2 separate regions of the Homo sapiens genome follow, and region 2 is linked to region 1. Evidence: fine-mapped expression QTL. A gene starts in region 1. The other region holds a variant in brackets. All regions are shown on one strand. Distances are between the middles of the regions. Region 1 holds the start of ESPN (espin). Region 2 overlaps PLEKHG5 (pleckstrin homology and RhoGEF domain containing G5).

What was found.
Region 2: its variant is fine-mapped to the expression of ESPN in blood mononuclear cells (TOPMed, PIP 0.96).

What each region holds. Positions count from the first base shown.
Region 1 is chr1:6,422,138-6,426,509 of GRCh38, forward strand. ESPN (espin) reads left to right here and starts at 2,639. Exons shown (of 13, transcript NM_031475.3): 1 at 2,639-3,112. The coding sequence starts at 2,819. RefSeq lists enhancers at 1,354-1,968, 1,969-2,582 and silencers at 2,579-2,738, 2,769-2,818.
Region 2 is chr1:6,466,805-6,471,176 of GRCh38, forward strand. It overlaps PLEKHG5 (pleckstrin homology and RhoGEF domain containing G5), which reads right to left. Exons shown (of 21, transcript NM_020631.6): 13 at 4,186-4,296; 14 at 3,931-4,080; 15 at 3,702-3,839; 16 at 3,432-3,551; 17 at 2,740-2,872; 18 at 2,531-2,646; 19 at 2,238-2,437; 20 at 1,021-1,782; 21 at 318-768. The coding sequence ends at 759. Among named protein-coding and RNA genes, the nearest start is that of TNFRSF25, 2.8 kb to the left of the region's middle. RefSeq lists an enhancer at 1-138. The variant C/T (reference allele first, on the strand shown) is at 1,725.

The DNA.
Region 1 (4,372 bases):
ATGCCTGTAATCTCAGCACTTTGAGAGACCAAGGTGGGCAGATTACTTGAGGTCAGGAATTCGAGACCAGCCTGGCCAACATGATGAAACCCCATCTCTACTAAAAATACAAAAAATAAAAAAATTAGCTAGGCATGGTGGCGGGCAGACACCTGTAATCTCAGCTACTTGGGAGGCTGAGGCAAGAGAATCACTTGAACCTGGGAGGCAGAAGTTGCAGTGAGCCTAGATTATGCCATTGCAATCCAGCCTGGGTGACAAGAGTGAAACTCCATCTCAAAAAACAAACAAACAGGCCGGGCACAGTGGCTCACGCCTGTAATCCTAGCACTTCGGGAGGCCAAGGTGGGCAGATCACGAGGTCAGGAGATCGAGACCATCCTGGCTAACACAATGAAACCCCGTCTCTACTAAAAATACAAAAAATTAGCTGGGCGTGGTGGCAGGCACCTGTAGTCCCAGCTACTCGGGAGGCTGAGGCAGAAAAATGGCGTGAGCCTGGGAGGCGGAGCTTGCAGTGAGCTGAGATTGTGCCACTGCACTCCAGCCTGGGCGACAGAGCAAGACTTGTCTCAAAAAAAAAAAAAAGAAAAAAAGAAAAAAAACCCTCCCTATCTCTCCATGCCTCATTATCCCCGACTGTGAACTGGGAACAATAGTTGTACCTCTCTCATAGCACCTCTGGATTAAATATCCATGTGAAGCATGGTGAGCACTTGGTGGGTGGTACAGATTTCATAAAAGTGCTACTGCTGCCGTGAGCTCCCTAGGGCTGCTGGGGAGGACCCAATTGGCCCGGTGGACATGGGAGAGCCCGGAGAGGACAGAAGCCTGGCAGGAAGGGCCTGGCTCACAGCCTGAGTTTGAGTCATGTCCCGAAAGGAGTCTGAGAGGTTGGTCAGCAGGGGTGGGTGCTCACATGTGGCACTAATGGAGATGTCATTAACAACAGTGGCAGGGGCTCAGGGGCATCTGCTCAGCCCACTGGAATAGCAATAAAGCATCACCTAGCCCTGGCCCACAAAATCACAAAACCATGTGCTAGATGAGCTCGTCCATGACCAAGGTGGCCACCTTAGGAGTGGAGAACACAAATTGCAGGGCCTTTTGGAATGGAGGAGGCCCAGGGGAGGGGTGCCCAAGACAAGCCATTTTAGCACCTCCTCCCAACAGTACCCCTGCCACTTGCTGGCCTCACGGCACACCTGCCTCTGGGCACCCAGAGGAGGGCAGCGCCAGCCGCAGTGAGCCTGTTGCTTTGGCCACCAGCTCCAGCAGCGAGGCTGCGAGGAAATGACTCCTCCTTCCTTTTGTCTGCAAACCACTGGGCAAGCGTCCCAGATTCCAGCGGCCACAGGTCCCATGGAGAGAGTGAGGGCGATCTGGCCTGGTGGAAGTCGTTGGAAACCCACCTGGCTAGGCACAGCCCAGCAGCTCCAGTTACCTGGGCACCTGGGAGCGCGGGAGGCCATCACGCAGGTCGCCACTAGGTGGCAGGCCCAGGGAAAGGACCGGAGGCAGCTGCCGAGTTTAGCACTATGAGTTTAGCACTATGACTCCCACTGTTCCTGGAAGGGGCTTCCTTCATTCTACAGCATTTCCAGTGCTGACTGTGCCAGGCTGGGGCTGGGGCGGAGTGAAACCTTCAGCCCGGGGTGGGGCCAAGCCCCCACGGGACTCCAGAGGGGGTGGGTGTTGGGACAGGAAGGGCACAGGGTGCTTCAAGATCGCTGATAGGCCGCCTGCACTCCCACAGCCATGTAGCTCCCACCTTCTGTCAGCTTTTCCTCGCGTCCTTTGGGCACTAGCCGCTCCCACGGCTGGTGTTCAGTGGAGCCTGCAGGGTGGCTTGGCACACATTCGCTCTCCTGCCCGCGCCCTCTGGCACTTTCCTGAGCCCCTGCAGGGGTCTCAGCCCCCTCTCTCTGGATGCCGGCGCTCCCGCGTCTCCCCACAAGCCCTAACCTCCCACCCATCCCTGCCTTCTGTGTGGCTGGAAGCCCCTCCACACCGACAGCGGCTGCGGGCGGCCTGAGGCCATGGCGTTCCCAGCGCACTAGTGGTTCCCGTCCTGCCTTCCTGCCCTCCCCGCTGGAACCTCTGGGGGCAGTTCTCGGATCTGGAGGGACCCTGGAAGGCAGGGCTCTTTGCAATCTCCGGGGATTTCGACCCAGAGCCCTTCAGGGACGTGGCAGGGCTGCTCCTGCCTCAGGGCCGTTGTCCTCGTGCTCCTCACCCCGCCTGGAATACCCTTCTCGCCGCTCAAACCCAGCCCCACGGCACCTCCTCAGAGACCTTTCCCTGTCCGCCCACGCGGTCCCGACAATCACTCCCCATCACCTCTGGAATTGCGTCGCCGGCGCCTGGAACCGCAGTTAGCGGGCACTGGGCAGATGAATGAATTTGTCTGTGCCTGGACGGCTCTCCAATTCGAACCCAGTTTTGCTGCCCTCTGGGGTCTCAACTGTTACGTGAGGCAAATTAGGAGAGAAGCCCCTGGGCACCTTGCCCCAGTCGCACGAGTGTCCCCGCGTCGCGGCGGGGGCGGGCGGGGAACTCGGGCGGAGGCTGCGGGGCGGGGCGGGGCGGGGTGGGGGCGGGCCCGAGTCTTAAGCCGGCGTCCGCGGGCTCCGGCCCCAGAGCGCGGCGGAGCGGAGCGCCAGGCAGCGCGGAGCGGAGGCCAGGCCCACAGCCGCTCCGCCTCCCGGCCCGCAGATCCCCGACGGCCGCACCGCGGGCTCCTCTGGCCCGCAAGAACACGTGCATGGCGTCCTGGGGAAGGCGCTGAGTGCGGAGTCGCGGCGCCGCACGCGGCACCATGGCCCTGGAGCAGGCGCTGCAGGCGGCGCGGCAGGGCGAGCTGGACGTGCTGAGGTCGCTGCACGCCGCAGGCCTCCTGGGGCCCTCGCTGCGCGACCCGCTGGACGCGCTGCCCGTGCACCACGCGGCCCGCGCTGGGAAGCTGCACTGTCTGCGCTTCCTGGTGGAGGAAGCCGCCCTCCCCGCCGCGGCCCGCGCCCGCAACGGCGCCACACCGGCCCACGACGCCTCCGCCACCGGCCACCTCGCCTGCCTGCAGTGGCTGCTGTCGCAGGGCGGCTGCAGAGTGCAGGTGGGTCCGCGCGGTTCGCCAGGGGCACTGAGGCTTCCTCCTCAGGACAGAGTCCTGGCCCAGAGTCCCCCGGGGCTCAAGGATGGGTGGGGTTTGGCACCTCCTGGCCCAGCTGAACCCTGCACGGAGCTCCTTCCAGAGGCCCTCAAGTGAATGGGCTCCCTGGCTTGCCAGTACTGGGGCAGATGCCCTGGCGAGCCTGGGTGCTCCCTGGAAGCGCACCTGGGTGATGGGAGCCAGAAGGGAGGGGCCTCCGTGGGGCTTGTGGTTACTAGTGTGTACCGGGAGAAGCAAAGCACTGATCCTGTAGTCCTGGAAGTGGGTGGGACGTGAGGCCTGGGCAGCAGAGTCAGACGCCCGTGTCCTCCAGGACCGGATCTGAAAGGAGGCTGGGCAAAGTCCCACAGCCCACCCGAGGCTGAGATTCAGGTGTCCCAGCCAGGGTGTGGGGGAAGGGTGATGAGCCGTGGTAAATGGGGGTCTCCCCATAACCCAGGCTGACCCCAGGACATCAGTGCTGTCAAGCTGTCAGCTGCTTCTCCAACCCAGGCTGATTCTTGCTGCCTCCAGACCCCACCTGGTCACTCTGAGCAGTGACCTCCAAGGGGAGTCCTGGCTGCTGAGAAGCAGGTAGCCAGGCAGCGGTGGGACAGTTCCAGGCACAGGGAACAAGAAGTGCAGAGCCCTGAGGCATGCACGCTCTTGTCCTGTCGGAGGGCCAGCCTCAGGCATCATGTTCAGAGTGGGTGAGGAAGGGAAAAGCTGCCAGGGCCAGGCCAGAGAGTATCATAGGCCGAGGTTAGGGATTTGGATGAAATTCTGGGTGTGGGGGCAGCCATGGGAGGGAGGAACCACAACCGATTTCCACTTAGACCACTGGGTGACCTGGAGATGGAAGGGGAGGAGTCAGGGTAACTCTAAACTGGCTTACTATGCCCCAAAGATGGCCAGGCCAACCCCACCTTCTGCCTTCAGATAGCAAGCCCCTCTTCCCACCCTTCCTGGGAGATGGCCCACCTGCTATCTCTCAGTGGGCCCTGTTACCAGGGCTTCCTGGCCAAGTGGCCCATGCCCACTCTTTTGGGCGGTGGCATGCCTCCCAGATCCAGTGTCCAGCCCTGGCCAGAAGCCTCTCTGGCCAGTGCAGAGGAGCTGGGAGAAGCAGGTGGCCTTGGGCCCAGCTTATCGTCTCCTGCCCTCTGGGCTGGGCAGGCTTGGGTGTGGGGGGAGAAAGTGTGGGGGGGATGACCTGGATCCTTG
Region 2 (4,372 bases), 45 kb after region 1:
AAAAAAAAGTTCCTGAAGGGACCCCCATGGAGGACCCACCTTCCCAAGAGGGCTGGCCTGAGTGTGGGAACTGGGCAGATTCAGCCCTGAATCCCCGGGGGGCACCTGGGGAGAGGCTCTGATGGTGGCTGAAGGTGGGGAAGTCTGGGGGTGTTGGTCTGGTGGCACCCCACACCCCATTACTTCCCAGTGCTTCCCATGGCAAGCTCCATCCGTGGCCCATCCGTGGCAAGTGGAGGAGCACAGGAACACAAGGAGGCCGCCCTGAACTCAAGTGCCCCGAGTCACTGGGCCCCAAAGCAAAGGACTCTTCCCAGTGGAGTCTAGACAAGTCTTTATAAAAGAACCAAAAGCTCAATAAATACGTAACTTCACAGAACCCAGCCCAAGCCAGGGGTGGCCTGTGGGACTGGGAAGGTGGGGGCAGGGCAGGAGTGAATCCCACTGGAGGCCAGTGAGGGTAGAAGTAGGATGGGCAGCCTAGGAGCCCAGCCCTGAAGACTCGAGCTGAGCTGGTAACTTCGGGGAGTAGGTGACGAGGGGCTGCCTGGGCAGGTGGGGTGGTACTGTGGCCTGGGCCTCCTCCACTCCATCCAGTCCGGCAAAGCGCAAATCGGGCCCGGGCGTAGGCAGGGATCCTGCCCAGCATCCGGCTCATGCATACAGGAGGCAGTAGCTGAAGCAGGTGCCGGCACGCCCCAGGAGGCAGGCTGTCTGCTGTCTCTTGGTCAATGGCACTCTTGGGGGCCTCCCTCTGCTCAGACCTCCCTACAGGGTGGGGAGGGGACAGAGTCCTTCTTTGGCTGACGCCATTCAGAGTGGCTCTGGTCACCCTCTCTTCCCCACGGCACTCCTCAGGCCCCTTCACTGCTGCCCACCACAGCCCCCTGCGCCCAGACACTGGGCAGGGTTCAGGCTCCCTCCGCCATGACCCTCCCCAAATGCGATGCTCCCAGGCATGAGTGGGCCCCCATGCCAGTGCCCTGAGCCACCTGCCCTACCCCAGTCCAGGCCACTCACGAGGCAGTGAGCGTGGAGTTAAGCAGCAGGGTGGTCCTGATTCGGTAGAGCTGGGCCAGGGTCAGCTTCCTGTGCTGGGCAGAGACCCCTGGTGGGGGCTCAGGCTGGACCCTGGGAGAGGCCCCCGAGGGCAGGTCTCCACACCTCTTCCTGTGGGAGCCTGCAGGTTCCCCGGCCAGGCAGCCGACTAGCCCAGGACCGCTGCCAGGGCTAGGGGCCCCTCGGCAATCCCAGCTGGGCCCAGCTTCCTGAGGGGAGCCCTGAGTCCTAATACCTGGGGCTGGAACAGCCAGGCAGAGCTCTGACAGGCTGCGGCTGGGGGCAGAGGGTGTCCCATGGGTGCCAGCCCCTGCCAGCAGCTGGAGGAGGCTGGCCTCGGACTTAGACTTGAGCAGGTGGGGCGGGCAGCTCAACAGCTGGACAGGGGTGCGGCGGCGGAGACGGGGCGAGGGTGGAGGGGAAGGAACTCGTGGGGACTCTGGGGCCCGAGGCACTAGCTCTGCCATTGGGCCTGGGGCCACAAAGTCTTGTAAGGAGGTTGGGGAGAGGGTGCCGTAGGCAGAGTCCATGGAGCAGGAGCGGCCGTCCACCGGACCCAGGGGCAGCAGCTCACTGGTGGGCGTGGCAGATGAGGCAGTGGTGCTGAGAGAGGTCTCATCAGACTGGGAGCTGAAAGGACCGCTGTCGAACTCGGGGGAGGACAG[C/T]GTGTCCCCAGGCTCTACCACAACCATGGCCAGGGTCTCCGTGGAGCCATCTGAGGCACTGTGGGGCCAGGAGCAGAGTCAGCCCAGGCCATGAAACCTAGATGGCCTGAGGCAGCCCCAGGCTGGGCAATGCACGGTGGTTTATACCCTCTGCCCTCCTGGGGCTGGAGGCTCAGAGATGGCAGCATGTGGCAGGTGTGGCAGATCTTCCAGCTCCAGTGCCCACAACAGACCTCAGTAGCGAGCCCAGCACTCTTCCCTGCCAAGGCTGGATCTGCCCTAAGGATCCTCAGCACAGCACCCCAGGCAGCTACCACGAATGGATCAGGGCTGGCAGCACATGGAAAGGTGTCTGCCCTCCCCACCCGGACTCTGGGGGAGACAGAGCCCCGCTCCCACAGTGTTCATGACAAGAGGCCATTGGGAGGAAGGGAGCGTGGCTGGGCCTTCAGGAGTCCTGGGCTAGAGTACTTGTCCTGGTTTGACCTGCTGGGTGGTCATGAGCAGACGTACCAGTGCTGAGAGTCGGGGCTGCCGCTGCTTTTCCGCATGATGGTAGGGGAGCTGGCAGCTGAAGTGCCACTGTCCTCGCCTTCCTCCTCCTCCTCCTCCTCCTCCTCTTCCTCCTCCTGCTCATCCTCCTCCTCTTCCAGGCTCTGCAGGGGCTGCTGACTGCCTGGGGGCTCCTGTGCACGCAGCTGTTGCAGCTGGTTCTGCAGGCAAGGTTGGGGTACATGGGACAGAATGGGTTGTGACCAGCATCTCCCTAATCTGCCTTGCCCACCCACTCACTACTCTGCACTCACCTGGGCATTGTAAATGGTGTCCACCCAGCCACGGCACAAGGCCTGGCCACTGGCCTGGAACGTGTAGGCCCCTACAGCACTGTGAAACTCATTCAGGTAGATAAGGAGGAAGGACCCTGGTTAGGGAAGGCCCAAGTCAGTGTCAGCAGAGACGATGGCCCCCACCCATCACAGCCCCTGACCAGGAACAGGGGACCAGGGCTCCTTACCAGGGTCCCGTAGCTCCCGGCACACAATCTTGTCCACGAGCAGGGGTGGCCTGATGACCCTGGTCCTCTCTGCCTTCTTCACTGCTTTGGTCACCAACAGCAGATCCGTGAAGAGGAAGCAGTACACATCCATCTGCAGTGGCAGGAGGGGGGGTGGCCAGAGAGGCCAGCAGGGTCAGGGCCAGGGACTGTGGCACCAGCCTCCCCTGGGAGCACTCGGTTTTTGTCAAACACTCCTCCCACCATGAACCTTCAAGTAAAATTAAAATGAAGAGGAAGATGATTCTCTTTCACTGAGATGTACGTTGATGACTTATCTCAATACAAGTTTACATTAAAAAGAAGACTGGTGACTTTGAAGTCACCGTGTGCAAGCTCTCAGCCTGCCCCATGCCTGAAGGGGCCATGGCACAGTAGCAAGGCTCTGGGGTTCCTGGCCCACTTGTGGAATATGGCTGCCCTCCCACCAGGAACCCATGTGGCACCAACAAATGGGCACAACTGGTGCCTTCAAGGGCTAGGACCCTACTGCTGGATTTGTGAATGGCAGGCAGAGAACTGTCATTCACTATGACAAGGTCACTGGTTCTTGAGTAACCACCGAAGGGACTGCAGAGCTGAGAACCAGTGACTGGGGCCCAGGAGGTCCCTAGGAAGGGCAGGGCACAGGGGTGGGGTGGCCCTGGAATCACCTTGCTGTCCTTCCCCTCCTTCATCCTCAGGCTCCCCTCCAGCAGCAGCTGCCGCGTCTCCTCCGGGGAGGCGCCAGGGATGGGCGCTGTCAAGTCCAGGTGCAGAAATTCCTTCAGGAGCTGGGGACGGATGGCGTGAACGTAGGGGAGGCCAGAGACTGACTCCCATCTCAGCTAGGCATCCTCAGTGAGATGCCCAGCACAGCCCCTGCCTGCCAGCTGGGCCTTCCTCTCTCCCAGCCGGCAACCCCCGCAGACACACACGCCCACCTTGTCCACTTCGTCGCTGCTGCTTTCCACCACCTCGTAGGCGTCGATGCGGCTCACCACGGCCGCCAGCCGCTGCCGCTCCTGCCGCTGCCGCATGCACGCGTTCACGTGGTGGATGAAGCGCTCCACGGAGCCGATCTAGGGGCAGGTGAGGGAGCTTCAGGTCCAGGGTCATGACGGAGCAGAGAGCCGCGCAGGGGGGACGGCTCCCGCTGGCCATCAGGGTTACCATGGCGACGACGGCCTCCTTGGCGCGCGGCTCCTCGGTCTTCCTCAGCACCGACTTGAGCAGCAGCGGGTACTTGGTGAGCCGCTGGTGGGGTTTGGCCAGCATGTCGCTCAGCTTCAGCCTCTGGCACTGTGGGTGCTTCTCCGCCCACTGCGGTGGGGGAGTGGGGGCGGGCTCAGGGCAGGCCCCGCCCCACCCGGCCCCGTCCAGGGTCCCGTCCTCCTGCGCCCCCGCCCACGGCACGCGCGCCCTCACCGTGATGTAGGCCCGGAAGAGGTCGTTGTCGCGCAGCAGGCCGCGCATGTACTCCATGCAGCCCTCCTCCTCCATGCAGTAGCGGATGTAGGGCTTGAAGAGCGAGCCGAACTGGCCCGGGGCAGAACAACCACGGCGCCGGTTACCGCGCGCTCCCTGCGGGCCGGCCCGCGCCAGGCGCTGCGCA